Linked DNA regions of Homo sapiens. The protein of the gene in region 1 interacts with the protein of each later gene in a pairwise test. Each region holds a gene or a part of one and is shown on either strand. Other genes may lie near its edges. The genes, in order: DLG2, KDELR1, PLEKHA2 and SERPINB13.

Region 1 (7,024 bases):
GGTATGAAAGCCCCTCAAGGCCCGCAAAGTGCCACAAAGACATGAATTTTCTCTCCTTCATCACAGTGGCTTTTTCTCTTTCCCTTTGTCTCTTCCTCATTACCCATAGGGCTTTTCATTCTTGGACATGGAAGTAAAAATTAGTTTAAGATGCTGAATTCACAGCAATTATGTCATGCCCACCTCCACGGGTTTCCCCACAGGCTTCCTGGGTATTACACAGTACCTGATTGCCACAAGGTCTTGAGAATTGGGGTGGCCCGGACATAAGGGATGCTGCCATTGCTGTCTACCAACACTACTGCTCTGAACCAGAACCAGAACCAGTGCCTTTCATAGAAAAGTAAACCAAGAAGTGATGGATAGACAGAGATAGAGAACTCTTGAACAAAATTAATCAAAGCTATGCTTTGCCCTAGTTGTCTGAATCGCAATCATACACACTGACATCAAATATCTTATTAAAGATTTGCCTTTAGAACGTTCCATCAGAATGATTTGCAAAGCCATTGGGAAGAGATTTTTATGGGAACTTGATGTGCTCTATTTATTTAGAGAAAACGATGCTTTCCAAAGTTAAATGACCATATTGACAGAAACACAAAATAGAACCTACCGTTGGCCTCATCACTCATCCTGTTTCCCATGACTGAAATCAGAATGCAAATTTGTTGACATCTTTCTTTATGTTAAGCACTCAATGGGGCACTGGAGACATGGTGATGAATAAAACTCAGTTCTCGCCTTTATGAAACTCCCAGCCTAATAAGGAGGTCCAAGAGTTACCTGACATTTAAAGCTTTTGTTATCCCATGGTCAGAATTCTTCCCTTGCACATTAATTGTTGAAGATTTCCCCTGTAAAGTTATAGTCTAAAATTGCAATGTTAGTCTACGATGCTTCTATCATTAAAACTATACTTTCTCCCCAAGAATTTTTACACTTCTTTAATTGACCCACAGCATTTTCCTGATGAAGTAATACTAAACTAAAACCTTGAATGCGTATACCCTCTACATCGCTCAGGCTTTAGATAACTGGGGGTTAGTAATCAATCACCTTCATGTTTTTTGGCCTAGGCTCTGTACATTTCAGTAGTTTATTCAAAGGGAATCATTCTTTTCCTGAGTACAAGAAATAGTGAATCTGACTCCTCACTGACCAAACCCCTGACCAATGTGGCAGAGTCCCCTGAACACTTCTGGGGTGGCCATGGGTACATACCACTTAGGAGGAGCATCAAGGTCCACTCTCTGTACCCTTAAGAAGTAGCTTGGCATGGTGGCGCCATTCTGAGCCCAGGCCCTCCTTGGGACTGAGATAAGATATGACTTCAGCCTGAGGCCATTTCTCACACTTGAAAAAGTAAGACACTCCTATCCCCATCCCATTCCAGCTACCCAGCCTCCAAGGAAGTCATCCAACTTCGCAGCTATACCCACATATTGCTCAATTTCCCCAAATCAGTCTCATTATCAAAACAGTCGATCATATTAACTCTTCTTATGAAATTACCTCTCTTTCTGTGGTGCTGTGGCTGTTGAAGGAGGAAAACCTGGCATTGATAGACTATGAATGTGCTTCAGGGGTGGGTGGTGAGGATATACAGCAAAGGTGAATTGCCCTTTGGTTTCAGAAGTTACCTCATATTCCACTTCTGCTCCACTATTTCTTCTAGTAGACAGAAAGTTCTTTTCAACAGCCCTAACCTATTGCTGTTCCAAAGGTTAGTCAATGCAAAAAAAAATGCAGACACTTCCGGGTTTGCAGGTGAAATTGAGCTAATCCTCTGACCAATTAATTCATCAATTATATAAAATAGATGATTGAAAAAATAAATGGCAAAAACCAATTTACTTTCTATGGTTATTTGTTGACTTGAGGTCCACCCTGAGTCAGAAGGCTTGTAGCAGATGACATTGGAGGGGCTGACATTTTACTACTGTGTCTTCCTTAGTTCTCTATCTGAAGTTTCAACGCACAGTTTAGCAGCAATTATAACCAATGATGTAGGACACACCTCAATTTTTGATCTTCATTAATTGACCCACAGCATTTTCCTGACGAATTAATATTAGAGTAAAACCCTGAGTGTCCTGATGAAGTTTTTATATCATAAATGAAATAAGCATATACTTGCTTTTGAACAGTGTGCTTCTTGGGGAAATAAAATAGAAGATGAAATAAAAGGTACAGCAATTCTGATTATGTAGCAGCCATCTATTGAATTGGACCCTTTCCTTGAACTAAATGGCTTCCTTTTAAGTAGTAATGCTTGGTGTAGAGGCCATGGCATTCCATTCTCAATGCCAGACAGAAAGAAGTCTCACAGGTCATTGCCCTGCAGCAAATAGCTAGCAACCAGTTATTACTTAGAGTTATGACTGTGAAAATCTGATACTAAAATGGTGCTAAAGAGTTTTATGAGGATGAAGTTATTTTTGAATGGTTCAAGGAGAAAGAGCAAGGAGAATTAACTCTGAGCTGTGTCTGTTTCCTGTGTTTCAGAGCAGGGCTTGTCTCTGTAATATATGACTGTTAGTTCACTGTGGTTTTCTTTCCTTCTCTTCTCAGGAGGACAAGAAGACCTCATTCTTTCCTATGAGCCTGTTACAAGGCAGGAAAGTAAGTTTCCCAGCACGCTTTCATTCCTAATTTCTGGGCCATAAGAGGTGACATCATTGAAGGAGGGAAAGAGTGAAGGACTAAGGAGAATAAACTCGGCTTAATGCTCTGTTGTCTTGAGACCGTACCTTACTCTTACGCTGTCTCTCACTTTCTCTCTCTTTGACCCTATCACCAAACAGACAACTTCCTGCTGAGTATGGGCACTAATAGCACCTAAGAGAAGGATGCAGCCCTCCAGATGAGTGGTCCTCAATGGGAAGGAACACATTCAAATTACCTAAAGAGCACTAGCTACGAGACTGGTGAATAAATTCTCCTGAGAGACTGATGTCAGCTCAGTATTGAGAATGACTTTCTAGCAGATCTGCCTAAGATGTAGGCTATCTGTAAGCTGCTGCTTTTTCCTGGAGGCATTTATACAGAGGCTAATTGCTACTGACAAGGATACTGCAGAGAGAATTCAAGCATCAGATGGGGACTTGTACCCAATGAACTCTCAGGTTCCTTCTAATCCCAGATACAAGGAAATCTAGAAACTGTAGCAAAGTATAGAGAGTATTTTGATCTGGGGAAAAGAAATCATGAAAACATAAGATGTTATTACTACTAACAATTACTTTTTATAGTCATATCTAAACAATAGCCAAACAGCTGGTTTGGATTCTTTTTTCTCCCACTCAGTTGACTAAATTCAGTTGTTTTGACATTATGTAGGCAGAGCCAGAGAGTAAGCAAAACTCCTCCAAATGTTTCTTTTCATCAACAGATACTGCAATTGCCTTTCCCTGCTAGTAGATTCCAGAAAGTAGGCACTGCCAATCTCCTGAGTGTTAAACATCAATTTCCCTATGCAAGGCTGTATGAGTAATTTATCCAGTGAAGTAATGCCCTTAGCATCTCTTACTGTCTGGCAATTAAGAATCACCCTTGCAGGACAGTTTTGCAGTTGTTTCCAACTCTTTCTCTTTACCTACATCTTCCTTTCCCATTCTGCAGTAAACTACACCCGGCCGGTGATTATCCTGGGGCCCATGAAGGATCGGATCAATGACGACTTGATATCTGAATTCCCTGATAAATTTGGCTCCTGTGTGCCTCGTAAGTGTCATTTTTCTTTCCTCTAGGAAAAACAAAAAGAGCTTGGATTTCTTTATGAGATGGTAAAATGTAATTCCATCCTCCAGTAGTCTCTCCAGTAATTCAAATACCAACCATTTCCGATTAGCTGAGTGCCTTATTTAATTTATTTGCCTAACACTTTTCATTTATGCTGCCGTGTGTCATTCTGTATTTAATAAAAATAATAATGTTTTCTCTAAACTGATTGTAGCCCCTTAAAAGGCAGGATGAATTTTTGTGGCCCCCAACCATTTAAAACAGCATAGGATTTATGATAGGCATCAGTATGTTTTCATAGATTGATCAAAATGCCACTGAAACATTATTTTTTATAGGATGGAAGAGATCGGAAACAAAGCCATATATTAAAATCCTCTCAGGATGACTTAGGGCCATATGTCAATCCCAAAACCCAATAGGCTTTCCCATGTTGACAGTCCCAGGTTTAGGGAGGGTGAAGACAAGAAAATGTGTAACACTTCAATTTGACCTCTAGGCCATTACAGACTTTAAACTACTTTCTTCTCATTATAGATTATCATCAGGCTTCTGGTCCCTCTGATTGTAGCCTTATTAGATTCTAACTGCTCTGCCTCTTCCCCTCCCCACCCCTACCATACTTTCTCCACTCATTCACCCCGTCTACACCCCGACTCTGTCAAACAGAAATGCATGCAGACCTTCTACGTATGTAGACAGGTCCATCAGGAAATTTTAATTTATTAGATAATGGAGCTCTTACATCTGATACCAACAAATATTTCTCTTCCATTCTATGTGTTTTAAGCCTGATGCTTTCAAGTGTCTCTAACATTCCAGTACTGCAAATTTTACATGAGATACTTAAGAATAGCAGGAATTGTATGTGTCCAGTACATGGCCAAAAGACTAGGATGATTGCTGTATCTCATGAAACAATTCCCAGCAAGGGCTCTGGGAAGAGATCCTGCCATAGAACATATCCTGAGAAAGTCTTCAGACAGGAAGGAGCAAATGAAACTCCAGGTCGTTTACAGCAAGCTTCCAGCTTGCTCCTCCACTTTTGAGAGAAAGAAAACAGAAGGTACTTAAGCATTCTTTCTGCTTTCCCTTTCACCTTGCATATTCTCTCTTTTTTGAATTAATAGAACCATTTTGTGATAGTCAATAGATGTTCATTGTACAAAACTTCAAAAACACTAAAAAGAAAGTTAAACGAGAAAATTAGAAGTATACAAAATCCCACACAATACCCAGAGATAACATCATTGTTAATATTTTTGTACATTTCCATCTATTCTTTCTATGCATGCATTTTTTCTCTGTGATGATTTTTTTGCTTATTTAAAATTTTATATAACTATTTCAAATGATTATTATATCCCAATTAATCATTCTTTATGAACATTTTGGTTTTTCCCTATTTTTCACTATTATGAATTGTGACAAAAATATCATCGTAATTGTGTTATAATTATTACTTATAAAATAATATAATGAATATCTTTAAGGATAAATCTGTATCTGAAGTTTTGATCATTTTTAAAAACATATTTCTAGGAAAAAATAAGTGAGTCAAAGATTAAAAATATTTTAACAGCTTTTATTCATATTGCTAGATTGCTTTCCCCTTCTCTTCTTACCAAAAAATTTAGGTGAAATGGTTAGAGTTGCTGATTTTTAGTCCTATCTAACTGTGATTATCTTATTTTATATATGTTGAGAGTCTGAATTTTATGGTCCTTTATAGAATGTTAAGTTTTTGTTCTGACAGGTGATAATTTACTGACACAGCAGCTTCTTCCATTTGTGACATGGTTTTAGACTTTGTGAAGATGGGTGTAGAGTAAGTCTAGAGTAACCTTTTAAAATGTGGCCTTTCTGGGATCTCCATGGGTTCTGACTCAACTCCCGTGTCTTCTAGCACCATGTGATGTCTAAACTCTCCATTTGGAAATGGCCTCTAGGTAGAGAGGTGGGGTGAATGCTCTCTCATATGTTTCTCTTTTCTCAAAGATTACAGCCCTGTACTTCCTGTTGTCTGATATCTGAAAACAGTTGTTTCATATATTTTGTCCAGTTTTTTAGTTGCTTATGGTGGGAGGGTAAGACTAGTACCTGTTACTATGTCATATTTCTTCATACTACATATTTCTACATATCAATGTTGAGGATGTGGTGGAGAATATAGGTGTAAAGCAAGTTTATGGGTATAAATGCACCTTAATTTTATCATTTTTTGTTTTATAAAGATACTACGAGGCCAAAGCGAGACTACGAGGTGGATGGCAGAGACTATCACTTTGTCATTTCCAGAGAACAAATGGAGAAAGATATCCAAGAGCACAAGTTTATAGAAGCCGGCCAGTACAATGACAATTTATATGGAACCAGTGTGCAGTCTGTGAGATTTGTAGCAGAAAGAGTATGTTCACCAATCTTCTTACACCTCCCCTGAAGAAGGTTTCTAGGTTGCAAACTGCATTTTTTTTTTTTTTTGGTCATTACTCTTTCTTGATTGCAATTGTAAATTTTGATTTAATAATTTAAAACATCCAAGCAGAGAATCACCTTAGAGCAATGTCATTAATCTTTGTTCTAATTTCAATAAAGTATTCTCACTGACTTGGAAAAAGTAGGAAGAGGGCTTTGTCTTTGACTCACTATCTGAGGCCCCAATACACAACCTTGATTTTATTAAGGCAGGTTTACTACTTTAGTTGTAAACCAAGGGGATAGCATTCCTGAATTATTTTGTTAGAGGAAGTTATTTTTTTTCTCTCTCTCTGAAAACTTGACATCCTCATGGTAGAAGAGAAGATAGATGAGAAGGGCTGCCCAGCCTTTTGCTCGCAGAAGTTCTAGCTTAGAGGAGGTGTAGATGCTGCTATTATCTTTTTGCTGGTAACTTCAGGGGCATGGAAAAGAGAAGAATGTTCAAGAGAGGGTACCATAGGAAGGCACCTGGGTGTGGCTACACAATCTGCCTACAGAGGGATCCTATTTCCTGTGAACACAGAGAACCAGTATCATAGGAGAAGATATTTGTTGGGTTGATTTGATTTGCCATGACCTTTCTCAATGTACCGCTAAAGAATTAAGTAATTTTGATGTCTATCTAAGAATACACTAAGAAGTTGCATCTATTTTCCTCCCTCTCAAAAGTTCAGTTCTATCAACTAAATGAATACTGGTTCTAGTCAAACTGTCCTGGATAATTGCACCTATTTTCCTCTTTGTTCATGTTGTTAACTTGAAATGTTCTGACTGGTGAATAATCAACCAGCATTTATACATG
Region 2 (7,477 bases), on another chromosome or scaffold:
CCGTAAAGACCCAGGAGTCCTTCTGGCAGCCCCTTCCTCCCCCAGGCCTTGGGAGTCTGGGCATTCGGTCCTGTTCTTTCCCAGGACCCAGGAGGCCAGGCCCCTCCTGCCCCAAGACTCTGGAACTCCAGTGCCCAGCCTCCTCTCCCTGCAGGAACCAAGAGTCCAGGTCCCCAGCTCCCCTCTTCCCCCAAGGACCCAGGAGTCCGGGTTCCGGCTCCTGTCCTCCCTTAAGGATCCCCTTTTGGTTTCAAACCCTATCCTTCCCAACATCCTGGGTGCCCCCCCACCGAGCTCTGGCCTCCCTAGTCACCCCACTTAGATCCTGTACATAGCACAGCCTGTCCCCAAGCGGGGAGGAGGAGGAGGGTGCCAGAAATTCCTAGGGTGTCCCTGTCTTCATTGCCCCCCACAGCATCCAACAGAGAAGAGAGGAGCGGCCACTTCGATCAACAGCTCCCCCCACAACCTCGAGTTGTGCTGCAGACGGCATCCCGTTTCCTCCCCCCTCACCTCCCAACACACACACACAACATCGGTCTCTCCCCACCCGAATCCTGATGCTTGGAAGAGGCTGGAAGGGTGTTCCAGAACCTTGAGGAAGGGGTGGGAGCTTGGGGCGAGGGGTGCTGGGGGCCTGGATGCCCTCAAGGTCCTTGGCGGGGGTATTAATAGCAGACTCATAGCTCTGACATGGGAGGGGAGAGCGAGAGGAGAGAGGGAGAGGACCGGCTCGCGATGGGGGGACTGATGCAGGGAGGGGGGTACAGGGAGAAGGTGAGATAGAGAGATGGAGGCACAGGGATATGGGGCATCAGGTATGTGGGGATGGGGAGAGGGAGCCAAGTGTCAGAGAAATGGGGGCGTGAAAGGTCTGAGGTGTAGGGACTCAGGAAAAAGGGGCTCAGAGAGGGAGAGAGAGAGGGTGGAGGAGAGTCCCTGAGGGACAGGGGAGCTAGGTGGGGGTCAAGACCCCTGCCCACCGTTCAAACCCCCTCCCTCCACGAGGCTTCTTGCCAACTTCCTCTGTCCTAGATTTGGGGGTCCACATTCCCACCACCATCCCTGCATCCCCTGTCCCCGCCTTACCTTTTCATGACCCTGTTCTGTTGGGGGGATGGCGGGGGGGCCAGGACCGGAACCCGGCGTCCAGCGACCCCAAGATTCCGAGGAGGGCTCAGAGAGCCGATGTCGGGGGGCAGGCCCCGGGGCGGCGGCAGTGGTGGTGGCGGCAGCAGCGGCAGCCCGGACCTCCTGTCTGTCCCTGGCTCCGTCTCTCCTTCCTCTTCCTTGGTCCTGTCCTGCCCTGTCTCTCCCCCAAGGTTGCGGCCACCTGGACTAGGCGAGGACGTGGCTACACATGTTGCTCTGGAAGTTGGGCCCCGGACATTGCAGAGGCTGTCGGGGTGTCCTCTTGCCGCCCCGACCCCGTGGGGATCCCCCCTCCGCCCACCCGGGGTGCCCCCCTCTGCCGCTTCAGCCCCGGCTCCTCCCCCCTTTCCATGTGTCCAGTCCCGCCTCTCCCTGGCTCACTCGCACCCCCGCTTTGTGCCCTCAGCCCCCCCACCCCCCCTTCCAGCGTCTGTGTCTATCTGTCTGTCTGGGTCACCTCTGAAGCTAGTGGCTGGTGTGTGCGTGTGAGGAGCGGGAGATTGCCTGCTTGGGGAACTGCTTGCCCCTTCCTCGCTTGGCCACCTCTAGACCCCCCCTTGACTCCCCCACTCTCAAACACAGGCAGAAACACACATACACTCACGCACACACGCACGATCTCACTTCCCTGGGATTCCCCCTCAACACCCCCAGAGCTTGAGGAGGGACACACACACAGACACACACACACAGAGTGGGGGGTCTAATGGGGGCCAGGCTGCCACTGCTGATAGGGGCTGTTTGGACAGACAGGAGGACACAGGCAGCCGGGGACGCCCAGACGCCTGGCCGGACGCAGGCAGGAGGCACAGAACCCAGGTACACACCATCCATCTGGGTTTGGGGGGGCCGGGGGGAAGGAGCGGGAGCCCCACGACACCCAGGCAGGCAGCTCAGGGTCGGTACAGACAGACAGACCCCTCCCTCCCTCCGCCGCCGCAGCGCTTACAGACACACCCCCCCTCCACCAGCCAGCCCCAGACACCCGGACACACAGATCCTCACCGGGCAGATGGCAGACGCTCGAGAGACCCCTGGGGGCCGGGCCGACCTACCCAGGCAACACCCCCAGCAGGCACCGGTGGCCGAGGGAGGCTGCGGGAGGCTGCGGGCGAGGGTGGCGGCGGCGGCCGCGGCTTGGAGGAGCTGGAGCGGGAGGGACTCACACACTCGCTGTGTTCTCGCACACACACACTCACTCGGGATGCGATTAACATTCAGTCCCCGTCTGCCACTGCCGGGAGACCCACAGCCCCCCCTCCTGGCCTCCCTGGGGACCCCTTCTCCTGCCAGGCTTGGGGAGGGGGCCGCCCCCCACCCCTAGCTACCAGCCTCTGCCTTCCTCCTGGGACAAGGGAGTGAGGGGCTGAAAATAAAAAGGGAGGAAGAAGTCAGGCTGGGGACAGGCAGGCAGGGACTCAGAACCCGGTATGGAGACACCAGCTTCAGAGCTAGACTCCAGGGCTGGGGGTTGCTGCCCTCTGCCCCCGCCCTGCCTTGAGGCTCTGGAAACAGGAGGCCTTTCCCTGACTTCAGTGTTCGCCACACTAAGACCCAAGCTGTGGCTTTTATTGCCCCAGAAGGCCAGGCCTGAAAACCAGGTCTCGACCCTGGTCCCAGGAGTCCCACCCCCCAGCCCCTCCTCCCTCAGACCCAGGAGTCCCCTTCTCTACTGGGACCCAGGAATTTGGGGACCGCCTCCAAGTCGGAGTCTCTTTTAAGGACTCAGTCATCCCGACTCTCCCCCGTACAAGCCACCCTCAGGGACCCAAGACTCGTGGATGTCACCCTTGGGCACCCCGTCCTTCCAGCCCTCTGAAGAAATCAACACGCCTGCACCCCTTCTTTTATTGAGGGACCCTGGCCTCCATCATCTGTGGGTACCCCATCATCCGGAAGGGAAGCCACGTCTGTCCCCTCATAGATGCAGGAGTCCAGACCACAGGCTGTTCCCCGGGGGTCCCACACCCAGATGCCCAGCATTCCCCTCCTGCTAGAGGGCTGGGCCCGGCACTTTTATAAAGCCACCCGTGGGGCTCTGGGGTAGAGCGTGGGGCAGGACACCGGGGCCTCTGAGGGTGGAAGAGGGTGTGTGTGTGTGGGCAGGGCAGAAACTCTGGAGCAGGGGGGAAGCCAGGGCCAGGGGCTCCTGAGGTAGTTTGGGTCAGAGTTTTGGCCTTGAGCCTCCTGGGTGAGGCTCCTGTTTCCTTCATCCTCAAGGTCTGGGAGAACAGGGTGAGGTGCACATTCCTGAAAAAGAAGAGAATCAGGGCCTAAATCTGTGGGTCGTAAAGGGAGAAACTGTAGATCTAGATTCTTAAGGTTAGGATGTTTGATCCATAAGATGGTGGGGGTGGGACCCTAAGTTCCAAGGAACAGCGTCCTAGGAGGGAAAAGGGCTGGGGCCCTGAACTCCTGGGTCTGAGGGAGGAGGGGCTGGGGCCCTGGACCCCTGGGTCTGAGGGAGGAGGGGCTGGGGCCCTGGACCCCTGGGTCTGAGGGAGGAGGGGCTGGGGCCCTGGACCCCTGGGTCTGAGGGAGGAGGGGCTGGGGATCTGGACTCCTGGGTCTGAGGGAGGAGGTGCTGGGGGTCTGGACTCCTGGGTCTGAGGGAGGAAGGGCTGGGGGCCTGGACTCCTGGATCTGGGGGAGGAGGGTCTGGGGGCCTGGAGTCCTGGGTCTGAGGGAGGAGGCTGGGGGCCTGGACTCCTGGGTCTGAGGGAGGAGGCTGGGGGCCTGGACTCCTGGGTCTGAGCGAGGAGGAGCTGGGCCTGGACTCCTGGATCTGAGGGAGGAGGGGCTGGGGGTCTGGACTTCTGGGTCTGAGGGAGGAGAGGCTGGGGGTCTGGACTCCTGGGTCTGAGGGAGGAGGGGCTGGGGACCCAGACTTCTGGGTTTGACGAACGGGCTGGGGCCTTGAGTCCTGGGTCTAGGGGAGGAAGTAGGTGGGGTATCTTTCTTGTCTTCTGGGGGATTGGAGTTAGAGTGCCTGAAAGCTGCAAAAGCTAGCAGCTGAGCCTCCGGGTCCCTGCAGGATTTTTCAAGCTCAGAGGGCAGTCTCTACATCCCTGCAAGGGCTGAGGCTGGTGTACTGGACTGCGTCTCTTCCAGAGACACAGACTGCCTGGGCGAACCGGTGCTGGATTTGGCACTTTCCGAACCCTGCGACCCTCCCAAGTTCCTATGGGGCAGCTTTGGGGGTGCGTTTAGCGCCGCCACGGCAAAGCAGGAGGTGGGCGATAGGGGGCGCCGGGGATCCAGGCCCCGCCCTCGGGGGCGGAGCCTCTCCTCCCGGACTCCTCCCCCTCTCGCTCTCCTCCCTCTTCCCGGCTCCAGCTCCGCCGCCAGCTCCAGCCTTTGCTCCCCCTCCCAAAGTCCCCTCCCCGGAGCGGAGCGCACCTAGGGTCCCTCTTCCGTCCCCCCAGCCCAGCTACCCGTTCAGACCAGCAGCCTCGGGGGGCACCCCCCCGCCAGCCTGCCTCCCTCCCGCTCAGCCCTGCCAGGGTTCCCCAGCCATGAATCTCTTCCGATTCCTGGGAGACCTCTCCCACCTCCTCGCCATCATCTTGCTACTGCTCAAAATCTGGAAGTCCCGCTCGTGCGCCGGTGAGAGGCCCACCAGGGCTGGCGAAGGAGAGAGATTGCGGGCGGGGGTTGGGGGACGTCGCAGGACTCAGGAAGGGTTTGGGGGCACTAGGGGCACAGGTTCCACCCCCACTGCTTGCTGGGGATCTCTCTTCTAGGTTCTGGGTCTCCAGGGGATCAGCTCCCTTCCCCAGACTGGCGGGGGTGCATACAGTTTCATGTGAATGGCTTTAGGCCCCCAATTCAGCCACCCCCAGCCCCAATCTGGGCAGCCCGAGGGTTCATGGACCGGGAACAGGGAACCATGGCAGGCGGGGAGGTGGCTGTGAGTTGGTGACGTGGACCGTGGCGGCCAGGAAGGGAACGGGAGGGAGGTGACCGGATCCGGGGCCTGAGGTCAGGGAAGGTCCTCCCTAGGCCTCACCTCAGGTCCAGACTGCGGGAGGACCCTGAGGGGCCAGGGGTAGCCATGAGGCCTAGTCTGGGACGGAGCCTCGGGCTGGAGTAGCTTCGGGGGCCTGGGCTGCCCCCTGGCTGTGGTCCGTGGGAAAGGGCCCTGCTCAGGCGGGGCGGGCTGGGGAGGCCTCCGGGGACAGCTGCACTCCAGAGCTGCCTCCAGGCTGGTCCCGGGCGCCCTGCCTTAGTTTATTGCCCATGCAGCCCACCCCCAGCTTCCTCTCTCCTTCTGTCTGTCTGTCTGTCTGTCTGTCTCTCTCTCTCTCTCTGTCTCTCTCTCTCTCTCTTTCTCTGTCTCTGGACCACAGGAATTTCAGGGAAGAGCCAGGTCCTGTTTGCTGTGGTGTTCACTGCCCGATATCTGGACCTCTTCACCAACTACATCTCACTCTACAACACGTGTATGAAGGTAGAGGCTCCACCCCACCTCTCTGGCCCCCACTGAGGCAGAGGAGCCGGGTGTGGGTCCCAGACTCCTAGGTCTGAGGGAGGAGGGGCTGGGGGCCTGGACTCCTGGGTCTGAGGGAGGAGGGGCCGGGGGCCTGGACTCTTGGGTCTGAGGGAAGAAGGGACTGAGGCCTGGACTCCTGGGTCTGAGGGAGGAGGGGTTGGGGGTCTGGACTCCTGGGTCTGAGGGAGGAGGGGCCGGGGGCCTGGACTTTTGGGTCTGAGGGAGGAAGGGACTGGGGCCTGGACTCCTGGGTCTGAGGGAGGAGGGGCTGGGCCTGGACTCTTGGGTCTGAGGGAGGAGGGGCTGGGCCTGGACTCCTGGATCTGAGGGAGGAGGGAATGGGGCCCTGGACTCCTGGGTCTGAGGGAGGAGGGGCTGGGGGCCTGGACTCCAGGGTCTGAGGGAGGAGGGGTTGGGGGCCTGGACTCCTGGGTCTGAGGGAGGAGGGGCTGGGGGCTTGGACTCCTGGATCTGAGGGAGGAGGGGTTGGGGGCCTGGACTCCTGGGTCTGAGGGAGGAGGGGCTGGGGGCTTGGACTCCTGGGTCTGAGGGAGGAGGGGTTGGGGGTCTGGACTCCTGCGTCTGAGGGAGGGGCCTGGACTCCGGGCTCTGAGCCTACTGGGGCACAGGCCTGTGAGTTGAGGCCCCTTCTCATCATCCCCCTCCTCAGGTGGTCTACATAGCCTGCTCCTTCACCACGGTCTGGTTGATTTATAGCAAGTTCAAAGCTACTTACGATGGGAACCATGACACGTTCAGAGTGGAGTTCCTGGTCGTTCCCACAGCCATTCTGGCGTTCCTGGTCAATCATGACTTCACCCCTCTGGAGGTAGGCGCCTTGCTGTGACTCCTTATTTGGGGGGATGGTTGTGGCAGAGTAGCTATGACAGGAGACCCTCTCACAGGCTTCCTTCTGCAGGGTGTGCCCAAACTGCCTTATTTTAGGATGCATAAGTTCAGTGCATGGGCTCTGGGGTCAGAGGAAATTAACACAACAGCAGCAAGACTCGCTATGTGTCAGTCACTACCCTAAGCATTTCACCTACTTACTTTTCTCAGCAGCCCCACTTTACAGATGAGGAAACTGAGGCTTAGGGATTCTTTTTTTTCTGGAGACAAAGTCTCGCTCTGTTGCCCAGACTGGAGTGCAGTGGCATGATCTCGGCTCACTGCAACCCCCGCCTCCCAGGTTCAAGCAATTATCCTACCTCAGCCTCCCGAGTAGTTGGGAAGACAGGTGCACATCACCATGCTCTGCTAATTTTTGTATTTTTAGTCCAGACAGGGTTTCACATGTTGACCAGGCTGGTCTTGAACTCCTGGGCTCAAATAATCTGCCTGTCTTGGCCTCCCAAAGTGCTGGGATTACAGGCGTGAGCCACCATTCCTGGCCCAGCCTTCTTGAATTTGAATTCCAAATCTGCTAGTTTCTTTTTTCTTTCTTTCTTTCCTTCTTTCTTTCTTTCTTTCCTTTCTTCCTTTCTTCCTTCCTTTCTTTCTTCCTTCCTTCCTTTCTTTCTTCCTTTCCTTCTTCCTTTCCTCCTTCCTTTCTTCCTTTCCTCCTTCCTTCCTTCCTTTCTTTCTCTTTCTTTCCTTTCTTTCTTTCTTCCTTTCTTTCCTTTCTTTCTTCTTTCCTTCCTTTCTTCCTTTCTTCCTTTTCTTCCTTTTCTTCCTTTCTTTCTTTTTTCCTTTCTCTTTCGACAAAGTCTCGCTCGGTTGCCCAGACTGGAGGCAGTGGCATGATTCTGGCTCACTGCAACCTCCACCTCCCAGGTTCAAGCGATTCTCCTGCCTCAGCCTCCCGAGTAGCTGAGATTGCAGATGCCCACCACC
Region 3 (7,024 bases), on another chromosome or scaffold:
TTCGGGAGACTAAGACAGGAGAATTGCTTGAACCTGGGAGGCGGAGGTTGCAGTGAGCCGAGATCATGCCACTGCACCCCAGCCTGGGTGACAGAGTGAGACTCCCTCTCAAAAAAAAAAGAAAGTGTTCATGCTGGGTTAGAGCTCTAGATACCCCTGTCTCTAGATGGTCCCTTCACCTTTGCTCTCATACCGTAATGAAACTATCTGGCAAGTAGCTTCCTGGCCTTCACAACACACAGCTAACAAAGCACACAGGGTATTTGTAAGAGAAGGGGCCTCTATCCAACCCACTCAGCACCCTATCTTCCCTAGCCAAACCTCCCTCGTGTTTTCTGGGTTTAGTGCAAAAATCATAATATAACAATGCTGGAATTATTTTAACAATCACTCCAGCCAACAATTTTCACATTTGCATGCTTTTTCATGTCCCTATCCACATAATTGGCCTTTTTAAAACTTAAGATGATGTCATAAGCATTTTCCATGTTGCTACATAGTCTTTATAATCGTTTCTAATGGTTGCATAACATTAATGGACTGGTTTTACTATAATTTACATAACCATTTCTCTACAATTAAATTGAAGGTTATATCCAATTTTTCACTGTTATACATAAGGCTAAAATTTGTATTTTCATGCTTTATTTCTTCTTTTACATGGAAAGAGCATAAATTCCAAGTAATAATATGAGATCACAGGCTATGATCTTTCATAATTCTTGAGTCCTTTTACAAAATTGTTTTCTAAAAAGATGTTATCTATGTTGCAACCAGCAATATATTGTTATCATCACTATAATCTTACATATATTGAATGTTCTCATTATTTTAAACTATTGGTGGTTTCAAATACATAATGACATCTAGTGAGGTTGAATGTTTTTTAAATGTTTGTTTCCTATTTCATCTACTTTCCTGAACTTCATTAAAAGCAAATCAAAAGTATGTGCATACAGAATTCCTCTCTTTCTGTCTCCCTCCCTGTCCTTCTCTCCCTCTCTCCTTCATTCTCTCTCTCCCTCTCTTCTCTGTCTCTCACAAACAAACACCAAACCAAACCAAGACGTAGCCTCATATTATTCCAGTAACTAAAAACTGTATTTCAGGCTAGGCATGGTGGCTCATGCCTGTAATCCCAGCACTTCGGGAGGCCAAGGCGGGCTGATCACTTGAGCCCAAGAGTTTGAGACCAGCCTGGGCAACATGGCAAAACCTCATCTGTACCAAAAATACAAAAATTAGCCGGGCATGGTAGTGCATGCCTGTGGTCCCAGCTACTCAGGAGGCTGAGGTAGGAGGATCACTTGAGCCCTGGAAGTGGAGGCTGCAGTGAGCCGAGATCACACCATGGCACTCCAGCCTGGGTGACAGAGTGAGACTCCATCTCAAAAAAAAAAAAAAAGTATTTTAATGAAAAGAAAAACAAAAAGTGGGAAGTTTTATATGATCCAGATTTCTAAGTAGAATATAAGTTCTTAAGTATGTACTGCGAATGAAAATAAGTATTTATGATACAAGTGAAACTTGGGGAAAGAAAGTGAGTTTGCATGGAGTCACCCATTAATCAGTGGCAGAAAGTGTGTTAAATGGCAATTAAACTGAGAGATTCCTGGCCGACACCTGCCAGTTGACTAGAAGCAGCTCATGAGAAGGAAGTCAATGGCTGCCTGCCAGAGAATGAAATGGGGGGCACTGGGAGGTATTGCAGCCCCAAATATCTCTCTACTGCCCATTCCCATGCCTTAGGTTCCACCAGTGGAGATTCAAGCCAAGAAAAAAATTGCCCCGAGGAACTGAGGCAATGGATAACTTTGCAAGGCTCATAATATACAAGAGACAGCTGGGACCCAGACCCTGAGAAAATAGCACATAGCCCAGATGGGACACAGAGGCATAGAGGGGCTGAAAGGGAAAGATCACTGCTTAAAACAGATGTTGTCTACTTGAAAAATGTTCCTAGGATTCTTATACACCCAGGACAGGACTATGAACCTTTCTGGAAAGCAATTTAGTTGTATATATATAACAAGAAAGCAAAAAATGTTCATACCCTTTGACCCAGTGATTCTACTTCTAGGATTCCATCCAAGTCAATCAACAAAGATGCAAAGAAAGATTAAAGTAAAAAGATGGCAACTGCAATAGAATTTATAGTAACAAACAACTGGTAATGTCCTGAACAACACAATGGTTAGAAAATAATTCTTTTTTTTTTTTTTGAGACAGAGTCTCGCTCTGTCGCCCAGGTTGGAGTGCAGTGGCGCCATCTCGGCTCACTGCAACCTCCGCCTCCCAGGTTCAAGCTATTCTCCTGCCTCAGCCTCCTGAGTAGCTGGGACTACAGGCGTGCACCACCACGCCCAGCTGATTTTTGTATTTTTAGTAGAGATGGGGTTTCACCATGTTGGCCAGGATGGTCTCGATCTCCTGACATCATGATCCACCCACCTTGGACTCCCAAAGTGCTGGGATTACAGGCGTGAGCCACCGCGCCTGGCCCAGAAAATAATTAAATAAACAACAGGACATACTCACAAGGAAATATTACACAATAATTCAAAAACTCTGTTTTCAGGTTATTTTTAATGAATGAGGGGAAAACTCACCACATCATAAGTTTTTTAAAAGATATGAAATGGTACATAATATGATCTCAATCATCCAAATATTATTCTTATATTCCTATATACGGTCTGTTTTAAAACCAGATATATAGTCACCAAAACAGTAAGTTATTATCTACGGGCTATGAGTGGAATTTCATTTACTTGTACATATTTTTCCAAATCTTCTACAGGGAGCATGTGTTACTTTATTTAGCAGGAGAGAAAGCTATTTAATTCCACACAGATTCCCACCCAAGTGTATAAGTTTTGAATCTGATAATAAATTTCTCAATTCTCCAGAGTCCACAAACAAACAAGGCCTTCCCTAAATTATAGCTCTCTTGGAACTTTTTGGTGTTTTAAAGACCTAAACCTAATAAATAAATGTTTCACATCTCACAATCATCCAAGAGCCAGATATCTACCTGCCCAGAGGGCTTTAGCACCCTCCAAGCTGTTTGGGTTTCTTACTTCGTATGGCAACATCCTCTGAGCGCCTTTCCCTCTTTCTCCTGCTGGTGTGGTCCCTTGCTCTCTGGTCTTAAGAAGCACCCAGGTCCTCGGGCCAACAGAATACTCAGTCCCAAGTCGATGCTGCTATTCCTCTATTCCTACAACACATGAGCTGTACCTTGAAAAGTGCTCTGGGAAAAGGAAATGGGGACCCTGACAGGAACGCCCAGTGGAGTTTTCCTTCTTGAAACTTGGGAGATAGGACTGACATTTTAAAATAAGTGTCAGGTGAGGTGGTGTGCACCTATAGTCACAACTATTGGGGAGGCTAGGGCAGGAGAATCTCTTGAGCCCAGGAGGTGGAGGTTGCAGTTGAGCCAATGTCTCACACCATTGCACTCCAGCCTGGGTGACAGGAGTGAAACCCTGTCTCAAAAATACATACATACATACATACATACATACATACATACATACATACATAAAATAAGTGGCTGGCTGGATGAGTGAAAAGATGAATAGATTAATTTTTTTTTTTTTTTGAGATATGGTCTCACTCTGTCTCCCAGTCTGGAGTACAGTGGCACAATGATGGCTCAATGCAGCCTCCACCTCCTGGGCTCATGCGATCCTCCCACCTCAGCCTCCTGAGTGGCTGGGACTACAGGCGTGCACCACCATACCCAGCTAATTTTTGTATTTTTTGTAGGTTGCCCAGGCTGGTCTCAAACTCCTAGGCTCAAGTGATCCTCTGGCCTCAGCCTCCCAAAGTGCTGGGATTATAGGCATGAGCCACTGTGCCCAGCCAGATAGATTTATTTTAAAGAAAAGCTATAAAGGTATTAAGTAATGAGAGCTGTGGTTTTCTGAATAGCCCTCTTGATTTTGAAGATGGCTAACATAATTTGGAGACAGAGGAAAGAATAGAGGGAAATATGGGAGACTCTGCCTGACTACTTTAGCATTTTTGAGATAAATAATAAGAGAAAGTGATAACAGAGATAAAGCCTTCAGTGGTATTGGCTGAAGTACAAAATTACTACAACCTCAGTTCAAAAATGAGAAAAAAATTACTCATTTTTAAAATTTAGAGATGTTTCTTTCACATTCTGTGTTAGCAGGACAAGGAATTTCTGGGATTTTGCTCCAGAAAATATTCAAAAGGTGCTTTTTGACAAGGAGTGGGGCGTGTGGTACGTACATCTTCTGTCCTGTTACCCCTACCAGGGCAGAAGCTGCAGGCAGCAGCTTCAGTAGTGACTGAGGTTCTACCAACCAGAAATGGCTCAACTGGGTAACAGGAGAAAGTTTTTTGGGAAATAACATCAGAGATCTCAAAGAGGACTGTATGAAATACAGCAGACAGGAACTGAGGTATAGAGATATGGAGCAGTCACTCACCTGTTGCTAGAATACATACGGACCATGTCAACAGAGTTCATATATGTTCAGATTTGCAGCATACATCAAGATATATTGTGAAGCCAACCAGAGCCTTCGCAATGTACAAACCCAGTAAAAACAACAGCAAAATGCAAGCATGGCTATTTGAGAACACATCCCTGAGAATGGGTCAAAGATTATAACTTAGGAAGTGTGGAAGCCTCCACTTCCTACTGCTCTAACATGGCCGCATTTTGAAACTGTCATGATAGCAGATTCCAAATAGTGTAAGGCGGGAGAATAAAGTGCGAGAGAAGGGAACGTACTGAGAACAAGTTCCCAGAGGAAGTGCAGGGTGAGGAATGCAAACATGTACAGGAATGGCGGGGGGCGGATCAGACAGGGTGCTGGCTTGACCCTGAGATAGCCCAATCCCCACTGGACCCTAGAACTTGGAGTAGAGAGCAAGAGATACTCAAGAAGGAATTTTTGAAAAAATATGGGGGGAGGGGTGTAAGGCAGGAGTAACTGGAAATTGATACCACTGCAATAAAGATGCCAAAAACAACAAAATATTTCAGACACTCATGACCTCTCTTCACAGCAGCCTCATCTACATTCAAAGAAAATGTGGTTGTTGGAGCCTGCAGGAAACAAAAGCCTGCCCGGGGCTGAAGGCTCATCAGACCATCTCCACCAGAGAGGGCACCAGTGCAGGCACGCAGCCATACTGGCTTTACAGCCTATAAAAGCTGAGATCTCCAACTTTCAGAATTGTGAAAGTTTCCCCACAATGAATTCGGTTTCACTATTGGGCTTCCTAACAACAGCTGCGAGTCCTGGAACTCTAATCTTCATTTTATAATGGACGATGTCAACCAAAGGGTACTAATACATGGGCAGTTAAGAGAATGAAAAGAAAACACCATTTCTCCTGGCCGGGCACAGTGGCTCACGCCTGAAATCCCAGCACTTTGGGAGTCCAAGGTGGGTGGATCACGAGGTCAGGAGATGGAGACCATCCTGGCTAACACAGTGAAACCCTGTCTCTGCTAAAAATACAAAAAATTAGCTGGGCGTGGTGGCATGCGCCTGTAGACCCAGCTACTTGGGAGGCTGAAGCAGGAAAATTGCTTGAACCTGTGAGGTGGAGGTTGCAGTGAGCCGAGATAGCGCCACTGCACTCCAGCATGGGCGACAGGGCGAGACTCTGTCTCAAAAAAAAAAAAAAAAAGCAAAAACACAAAAAACATAATTTCTCCAACCTACTGGCCTTTTGCTAAGTGCTGGGGGTGGGGCAGGGGAGTGGTGAGGGGGGAGCGTAAATGGCCTAGCTCTGTTCCTCTAAAGACATGTGCTTCTGTCTCTTGATTTAGGGAAGGAGGAGGGGCTGGGTGTGGTAAGGAGGATGTGCAGGTGACAATAATCAGTATGAGTATTTAAAAAAAATTTTTTTTTTTTAGAGGCAGGGTCTCGCTCTGGTGCCCAGGCTGGAGTGCAGTGGTGCGATCACAGCTCACTATAACCTCAAACTCCTGAGTTCAAAAAATCCTCCTGCTATAGCCTCCCGAGTAGCTGGGACTACAGGCGCACACTACTACAGCTAGCTAATTTTTCAATTTTTTGTAGAGATGGGGTCTCGCTATGTTCCCCAGGCTGGTCTTAAACTCTTAGCCTCAAGTGATCCCCCCCACCTCAGCCTCCCAAAGCCCTGGGATTACAGAGATGAGCCACGGCATCCAGCCAATATGAGTATTTTTGAGGGAACTTTTGCAAGAAGATGACCATTCAAAAGGGTGTGCTGATTTCAGTTACCCATCCCATCCATGCAGTGGAGTGAAGGGAAAGAGCATGAGTCTTGAGCCAGACAGACCTGGATTCAAACGCAGAAAAGTTGCTTAAGTCTTCAGGGTCTATTTCCTAATCTGCAAAATGGAGATAATTGCTTTACCTACTTCAAAGGCTGCTGTGAGGATTAAATGAAATAATGTGTGAAAAGTGCTGGACACCCAGACATTGGGTAAATATTGTTGTTGTTAAACTGCATGTGTGGGTGCCTAACAAGGAGTACATGGTCATCATTACTACTGCAAAGTTGCTTAACACTGGGCAGGCAGCTGCTGCATGCGCACCTCCATCCCTCTAACTCCAGTGAGCAAATGTCAATGAAAAAGCTGCGACTCTGGGATTCCTCTCACGAGGAAAGGCATCAGCTTCCCTCACTCTTCCCTCTACTCCAAGAAACACCACATTTTACATCTCTAAAAATTCTCCAGGAGGTTTAAAACAAAAAGTCCAGGCAATGTGCTGACTCCTTCTTGGCCAGGCTACCCTGAGAGTTAACAGAAACCTAGACATGCTCGTCAGTTTCCAAGGCAAGCTGCCTCTTGATCCAGCCATGGGCAATCATACCAGCAGAGAGCTGCTTTGCAAGGGGCCAGCCAAATTTGAGTCCCAGCCTTCGCACTTTAACTGCAGTGCTTCTCAAGAGCATAAGGACAAGAGGACCCAGCTTCCCATCCTCTTCATCTCAGCTGACCAGGCACTGTGGGCAAAAGGCACACCACAGGGCCAAAGCC
Region 4 (7,095 bases), on another chromosome or scaffold:
TTTTCTGGGCTTCTGTTCTGATCTATCCTTTGCCAAAAACCATTCTGACAATTAATAATAAACCTTGCTATCTGACAGAGCAGGTATTATCTCTTCCTCCTTCTCTTTCAACAGTGTCATGGCTGTTGTTAGCCCTTGGCTATTTCATATAAATTTGGAATCAGCTGGCCAATTTTTTGAAAAAATGAGCTTCCTGAGATTTTGATTGAGATTGCAGTGATTAATTTTGAGAAAATTGACATCCTTACAATATTGAGTCTTTTAAATCACAAATAAAATATACCCCTCTATTTACTCAGTCTTCTTAATTTCTCTAAATTATGTTTAATCTTTTTCTATATGGAGTCTTAAACATCTTTCATATTTACTAGTTACGTGATGCTTTTTTCATTATCTTAAAACAATTGACATAAAATTATATGTATTTATCACATACAAGGTGTTTTGAAGTATAGAACATTGCATAATGACCAAATCTAGCTAATTAACATAGTATTACCTCACATACCTTATTATTATTATTATTTTTGAGATGGAGTCTGGCTCTGTCGCCCTGGCTGGAGTGCAGTGGTGCTATCTCGGCTCACTGCAACCTCCACTTCTTTGGTTCATGCAATTCTCCTGCCTCAGCCTCCCGAGTAGCTGGGATTACAGGTGCATGCCATCACGTCCAGCTAATTTTTGTATTTTCAGTAGAGACGGGGTTTTGCTATGTTGGCCAGACTGGTCTCTAACTCCTGAACCCAGCTGATCTGCCAGCCTCGGCCTCCCAAAGTGCTGGATTACAGGTATGAGCCACCATGCCCAGCCTCACATAGCTTTTTTATACTCTTTTAAATAATATATTAAAAATGTTTCTAACTGTGTGTTGCTAGTATATTAAAAACACTTGAGTTTTTATATTGACCTTGTAGTCAGCAATCTTGCTAAACTCACTTTTTAATTCTCATAACATTTACCTCAATTCCTCTGTGAATGATTCTATTTTTCTTTTTAAATTATCTTACCTTTTAAATAATTATCTAATTCATCAGTTAATTAATTGCTTTATTGCACTTGTCAGGGTCTCTGGTTCAATTTTGAGTGGAAGCAGCGGCGGTGAACATGCTTGTTTTGTTTTTCATCACAAAGAGAAAACTGGTTCTCTCTCTCCTTTGTCTCTCTCCCCGTGATTTCTTTCTATTAACTATTGAAGGACATGTAAGATGATCATACCGCTTGCTCATTATGTAAAGATGAAAAATTTTCCCATTTAACATATTAATTCTAAAGAGTCCCGATCTAAACCCCAAAAGTGTTTTTCATAGGTCTTGATAAACTAATTAAAAATTTTATCTAAAGAGAATATATGCAAGGTTGCAAATAAATTTTTGGAAAGCAAAAATAATGAGGGCTTGGGCTAGATATCACAACACTTTTGTCATAGGTGAGGCACCCTAGAAGCAGAGCTAAAGACAGGGATTTTTCAGGTAATTTTTGGGAAAAGCGTGATGGGGAGCATGCTTGTTTGAAAGAAGCAGAACAAGGCAAGGGGAAATGTTAATCATGTGGTTTCTGCTAAAGACTGGCTTCAGTCTAATCTTGTGGGGGAGGTCTGGAGGAGAAGTGGCACTATAAAGTTAGTCTTACTCAGGCAGCTGTCTTTTTTTTTCTTTTTCTTTTTTTTTTTTTTTTGAGGTGGAGTTTCGCTCTTGCTGCCCAGGCTGGAGTGCAATGGCGTGATCTCAGCTCACTCCAAACCCCACCTCCTGGGTTCCAGCGATTCTCTTGCCCCACCCTCCTGAGTAACTGGGATTACAGACATGTGCCACCACGCCCGGCTAATTTTTGTATTTTCAGTAGAGACAGGGTTTCACCATGTTGGTCAGGCTGGTCTTGAACTCTTGACCTTAGGTGATCCACCCGCCTTGCCTCCTTAAGTGCTGGGATTACAAACGTGAGCCACCGCGCCCAGCCAGGGGCTGTCTTTTTATGCCCTTATGCCAGTGAGTCATGCCTGAGGTGTGCCCTGGCACGGGGGATGGAGTGGTACCTGGCTTCCCCCGTAGGCAGCTCTCTTTTAGCCGAGAAAAGGGCATCTGTGAATTATAAGGGAAAACAACAACTGGGTAACAGGCATGCTGGTAGGTTAAGGAAATCTGGTGGGAACATCGGCAGCATCCACTACGAGATTACATGCTTGGAGAAGAAAAATATTACAAGTCAGTATCAGTAACAGACACACAGAAGTTGGAACAAAACTATGAGCTATGGAACAGGGTTGGGAACCTATCAATACTCTGCTTCAGGGGATAACTTTCTTCTCCTCACTTGTTAGCATAGAAATCATTTTTTAAATGGTTCTTAATCATCAACATATATTCCACCTCTGGGGCAGTTTTGATCCTAGAAAGAAGAGATGGATAAAACAGAACAGGGAGGAGTCCTGTGATAAGAGGTTGGGAAGGCGTTGAAAATTAGGTTTAGAGAGAATAAGGATGAGAATCTGTCACCAGATGGAGGTGCTTGAGTGTTAAACAAGAGCAGTTCCTGGTGTGAGTGGGCCACTATAAAAGAGGGAAGGTGAAGGTCCGAGAAGTGAGAGGCGCTGGCAACAGGAATGGTGAAGTGGTACAGGGTGGCGGTAGCAGCTGGGGTGGACAGGAAGACCATATGCAGAGTCACGGAGGGACCTGTGGTTGGGGACAGAGCAGCACAGCGTGATGGTCTAAGTTTCCAAAGGGGAGCATTGAAGGTGACTGAAGGAAGAAAGACTTGGAAGAAGAGGGAGTGCGAGGGAGAATAGGAATGGTGACTTTGCTTTCCCAAGATATGAGTGGCCGTTCCCAGAAAAGACTATGGGATGTAGTAGTCCTCAGGACATGCCAGGTTTCCCGGTGAAAGCAGGTGGTAGAGCAAAAGCTTTAGCAAAAAGCAGAAGGCCTGTGGAAATGGCTGGGCAATAGAACAGGAAGTCTAGGGGCCACAGAGAAAGAAATAAGAAGATATAAATGGATAGGGATATTAAAACATAAAGCATTATGGCCGACTCAGAGATTTTATGCCATTTTAAAAAACTAACATTTCCATTTCACTGGCATCCAGGGTTCACTAAGTGTTAATTCTTTCTAAACCTTACTCAATTTGCAAGATTCTCAGTGCCTATTAAAAAGCAAATCAACTAAATGTGGCTTTGAGTTTGCTTAAAGAGCAGCAATCAAAATATTTTGAAAAAAGTAAATTGTGAGTATGGAGATTGGAACACACATGACCCATATGCCCTTCGAGCCTGCGTATCTAGGGAGGTGTTCCTCTAGGCAGAAGGAAGAGCTAAGACACCCTTCTAGGAGCTGCTGCCCAGCAACGATGGCAAATCTCCACGCCCTTTACTGAAGATTAAAGCTAAGACTAATCCAAGCACAGTTTCTTTTAATGAACTGGTAGGGCCAGTAGAAATGCTCCAGGGTTGGCAGGAAAAACTGGAATCTGGGGGTGTAATTTCCTATTGAGTTTTTTTGGTAGTGTTGTTTTCCTGAAATCAGTGAGGATATTGAGTGCTTATGAATTATTGGCATTAGACACAGTACCTGGTACATAATAGACTTGATAAATGTTTATTGAATGAATTAAAATGAGATATTTTACAATTAATGGATGGAATACTTGAGAATAATAGGTGTGTGTGTGTATGTGTGTGTGCGTGTGTGTGTGTGCGCATGCTCGCTTGTGTGTGGCTGCCTACCCAAACTTTTCTTGTTCTTTTTTCTTGTTCCTTTGTAGCAAGATAGTTTTCTTTCATTTTCTTCCTGGCATTTGGCACTCCTAAATAATGCAAATGCAAAAATAACTCTGTTACAGAGAATGACTTGTCAGGACACAGCTCTGTCCATCTGTGGTAAGTAAAGTATGCATTTAATGTATGTGTTCATCAGGCTATACACCTTTGGTTCCCAGCGTTGGCTGTACATTGTAATCACCTGCGGTGATAAAAATTCTGATGCCTGGTTTCCACTCGAGAGATGCTGACTCAGTTGGTCTGGGGTGGGGCTTGGGCATAGATTTTTTTTAAAGTTCCAAGGAGATTTTAAGGTGCACGCAAGGTGGAAAACCACTGCTGAAGCAGATGTGGAGAACTATAAATTAAGGATCCCAGCTACTTAATTGACTTATGCTTCCTAGTTCGTTGCCCAGCCACCACCGTCTCTCCAAAAACCCGAGGTAAGTTCTTATTTTGGCTCCAATTTAAGACCTCTGTATTTTGAGAACAATGATGTTTGTTGTTTGAAAGAATTACTTTTATTTTGCATAGACTTTCTGGAGGTAGTTTTATTTAATTCAGTTCCAACATGGCCATGACAATGTATCTTCTTTGACAGTAAATTAATCCATTTTATTTCTGAGTTAACCTGTAAAGGATCTCTGCAAGGAAACCTGAGGTTGAAATGAAAGCTTTGATATCAGATGTGGGATGCCTTAGCGGGGATGAGCCCTTGAGGGCAAAAGGCCCCAAAGTATGTGGGCTTTAAAAAACTTTATTTTTCATTAATCTTATTCTTGTTTTAGGATTCCTCCTAAAGCCTTTACTTACTAGTTTTAAAGTAGTTGGTAATGAAGCAAACATAAAAACAGTTCTACCTATTTATTTTTGGCAAATATTAATTGCTCTTTAAAAACTATTTTTGTGAAATGACAAAAGTAATGCAAGCTCATGTACAAGCCTAAAACAATACAGAAAAGTATAAAAAAGAAAACCCTTTCATCTCCACCTAATAATTCATGACCAGAGATATGTGGTTTCTGCTTCAGAAAAATTCAGCCCAGAGTCAAGTTTGTATGCAGTTAGGGAAAGGGGTTTAAGAGATTTAATCAATCCTGTCACTCTCTGGGCTGAATTTTGAATCAATTGAGAAATAGTATCAGATAAGGATTCAAGTCTCGGCTTAATTATTGCTAAGGTTGGATCTGAGAGCACTGTTTGAACTTGAGGCCCGTGGAGATTCTTGTGCCTACCCCCCTGCCTTATCATGGGCCCCACATCTGGACAAACTGGTGTCGCCTGGACAAGGGCTGGGTCTACCTGGGGAAGCTTCCATGAAGAGGAGGCTGTGGAGAGGCAGAGACAGGCAGGGTCAGACAGAGAGCAAGAGAATAAAGCCATTAAAACATTAACCCTGCTCCGCGGGGAAATAAGAACTGAGCACCACCGGATGACGGAAGACTCCAGTAGATTGATGGATGTCTCCCAGCAAGAGAAGGCCAAGAGAGGACGTGAGAAGCAGGCAGCAGCGACCTTTCACCAAAAGGGTGGAAATCCCTGTATTCCGGATCGATGCAAGAAGAGGAATAGAAGCAGAAAGGATTCCCCTGACACAGAGTAATTCAAATGTTCAGTTTTGATTGTTGTTCTTGCTATTCTAGGTCTCGCTAAAATCATCATGGATTCACTTGGCGCCGTCAGCACTCGACTTGGGTTTGATCTTTTCAAAGAGCTGAAGAAAACAAATGATGGCAACATCTTCTTTTCCCCTGTGGGCATCTTGACTGCAATTGGCATGGTCCTCCTGGGGACCCGAGGAGCCACCGCTTCCCAGTTGGAGGAGGTTGGGCGCAGTCAGGGGGCTTCCTTGTTTCCTATGCACAAATTCATTTGGCGGGGGGGTTGTCAGCCCTCTTGCATTATCTTAAAAATACGCTCTTCTTGACCTGTGGACCAGGAAACAGAGACTTTCAAGACAAGGAGCAATTTCAGGTCTATCAGGAAAGCCCTCTTCCTTTTCCAAATACCATCTCGCCACCTGCTCCCAGATGCTTGAAATTTTTTTGAGTAGAGACTGGTTGCGTAACCTTGTCCAAGTACTTATGGAAAAAGTGACATAATCCCCACAAGGGTAAAAATGACACATCCAAGATGAACACAGGAACACATAAGCCAATACGAGTTCCTTAGAAAAAAATTAGAGGTATTTTTAGTAAAGAAGGGGATTCACCATGTTGGCCAGGCTAGTCTTGAACTCCTGACCTCAGGTGATCCACACGCCTTGGCCTCCCAAAGTGCTGGGATTACAGGCATGAGCTTAGCTGGGTGTGGTGGCAGGTGCTTATAATCCCAGCTACTCGGAAGGCTGAGGCAGAAGAATCGCTTGAATCCAGGAACAGAGGTTTCAGTGAGCCAAGATCATGCCACTTCACTCCAACCTGGCCAAAAGAGCAAAACTCCATCACACACACACACACACACACACACACACACACACACACGAAAAATCAGAGGTAAACGCAGACCTTTTTCTGATTTTGCAAGGAGATAATGTCACCTCATATACCACCGAGGTTTCTTTCAGAAGCGTCCACTCTCCCCTGACTGATTCTGTGTGAGGTTTTCTCTTCTCTGAGCACCACAGTAATATTTTCTATCTCTTCCAGGTGTTTCACTCTGAAAAAGAGACGAAGAGCTCAAGAATAAAGGCTGAAGAAAAAGAGGTGGTAAGAATAAAGGCTGAAGGAAAAGAGGTGGGGAGATGTGTTTTACAAACTTCAGTAGAGTTGCATTTTAGGTGTGGGGTCTCTGGGGAAAAGGACTGAGAAAGGCATGAAAGCAATATTGTTGCTTTACTATTAAGCAATAATAATCACCATAGACAAATATTGTTGTAAGGATTATACAATAATAATAACCCCTTAATATTGAGAAGAGACCTTAGGTGTAATGGACAATACCGCTATGATAGAACTGGTAAAGGCTAATAGACAGAAAAGTTCCCATAGCAGAGTGGATGGGTTTTGGAGTTAAACAGACTTAGGTCCAAGTCCTGGCTCAGTCACTTAAGAGCGATGCTACTTTGGGCAAGTTATTTATCTTCTTTCAGCCTCTGTAAAGTCCGCAGTAGGGGCATCTGGCAACTGAGCCAGTGGTGGTGGTGGTAGTAGCAGTAGGTGATATTATTGCTAAACTCCACTCATATTTTTAACCCCGTGCTGATGTTGTATTTAAAAAATTATTACAGGCCCAATGACTTCCTGAGGTCTTTTCCAGCTCCAGTGTTCCTGTATTCGCCATCCAAAGGAGAGTCTACTCAAATATGGGAAAGGAATAAGCCCATTAGGTCGGGGCTAGGA

What was found.
Region 2: the proteins of DLG2 (region 1) and KDELR1 interact in binary tests that used the Homo sapiens proteins (3 or more experiments, as listed by UniProt).
Region 3: the proteins of DLG2 (region 1) and PLEKHA2 interact in binary tests that used the Homo sapiens proteins (3 or more experiments, as listed by UniProt).
Region 4: the proteins of DLG2 (region 1) and SERPINB13 interact in binary tests that used the Homo sapiens proteins (3 or more experiments, as listed by UniProt).

What each region holds. Positions count from the first base shown.
Region 1 is NC_000011.10:83,468,328-83,475,351, reverse strand, and holds part of DLG2 (disks large homolog 2), read left to right. Parts: intron 1-2,574; coding exon 2,575-2,625; intron 2,626-3,624; coding exon 3,625-3,726; intron 3,727-5,978; coding exon 5,979-6,151; intron 6,152-7,024. UniProt on the Homo sapiens protein: Required for perception of chronic pain through NMDA receptor signaling. Regulates surface expression of NMDA receptors in dorsal horn neurons of the spinal cord.
Region 2 is NC_000019.10:48,388,549-48,396,025, reverse strand, and holds the start of KDELR1 (ER lumen protein-retaining receptor 1), read left to right. Parts: upstream 1-4,474; 5' UTR 4,475-4,667; coding exon 4,668-4,758; intron 4,759-5,501; coding exon 5,502-5,602; intron 5,603-6,314; coding exon 6,315-6,473; intron 6,474-7,477. UniProt on the Homo sapiens protein: Receptor for the C-terminal sequence motif K-D-E-L that is present on endoplasmic reticulum resident proteins and that mediates their recycling from the Golgi back to the endoplasmic reticulum.
Region 3 is NC_000008.11:38,904,341-38,911,364, reverse strand, and holds part of PLEKHA2 (pleckstrin homology domain-containing family A member 2), read right to left. Parts: intron 1-7,024. UniProt on the Homo sapiens protein: Binds specifically to phosphatidylinositol 3,4-diphosphate (PtdIns3,4P2), but not to other phosphoinositides. May recruit other proteins to the plasma membrane.
Region 4 is NC_000018.10:63,583,254-63,590,348, forward strand, and holds the start of SERPINB13 (serpin B13), read left to right. Parts: upstream 1-4,089; 5' UTR 4,090-4,197; intron 4,198-5,397; 5' UTR 5,398-5,414; coding exon 5,415-5,579; intron 5,580-6,402; coding exon 6,403-6,462; coding exon of another isoform or gene 6,463-6,489; intron 6,490-7,095. UniProt on the Homo sapiens protein: May play a role in the proliferation or differentiation of keratinocytes.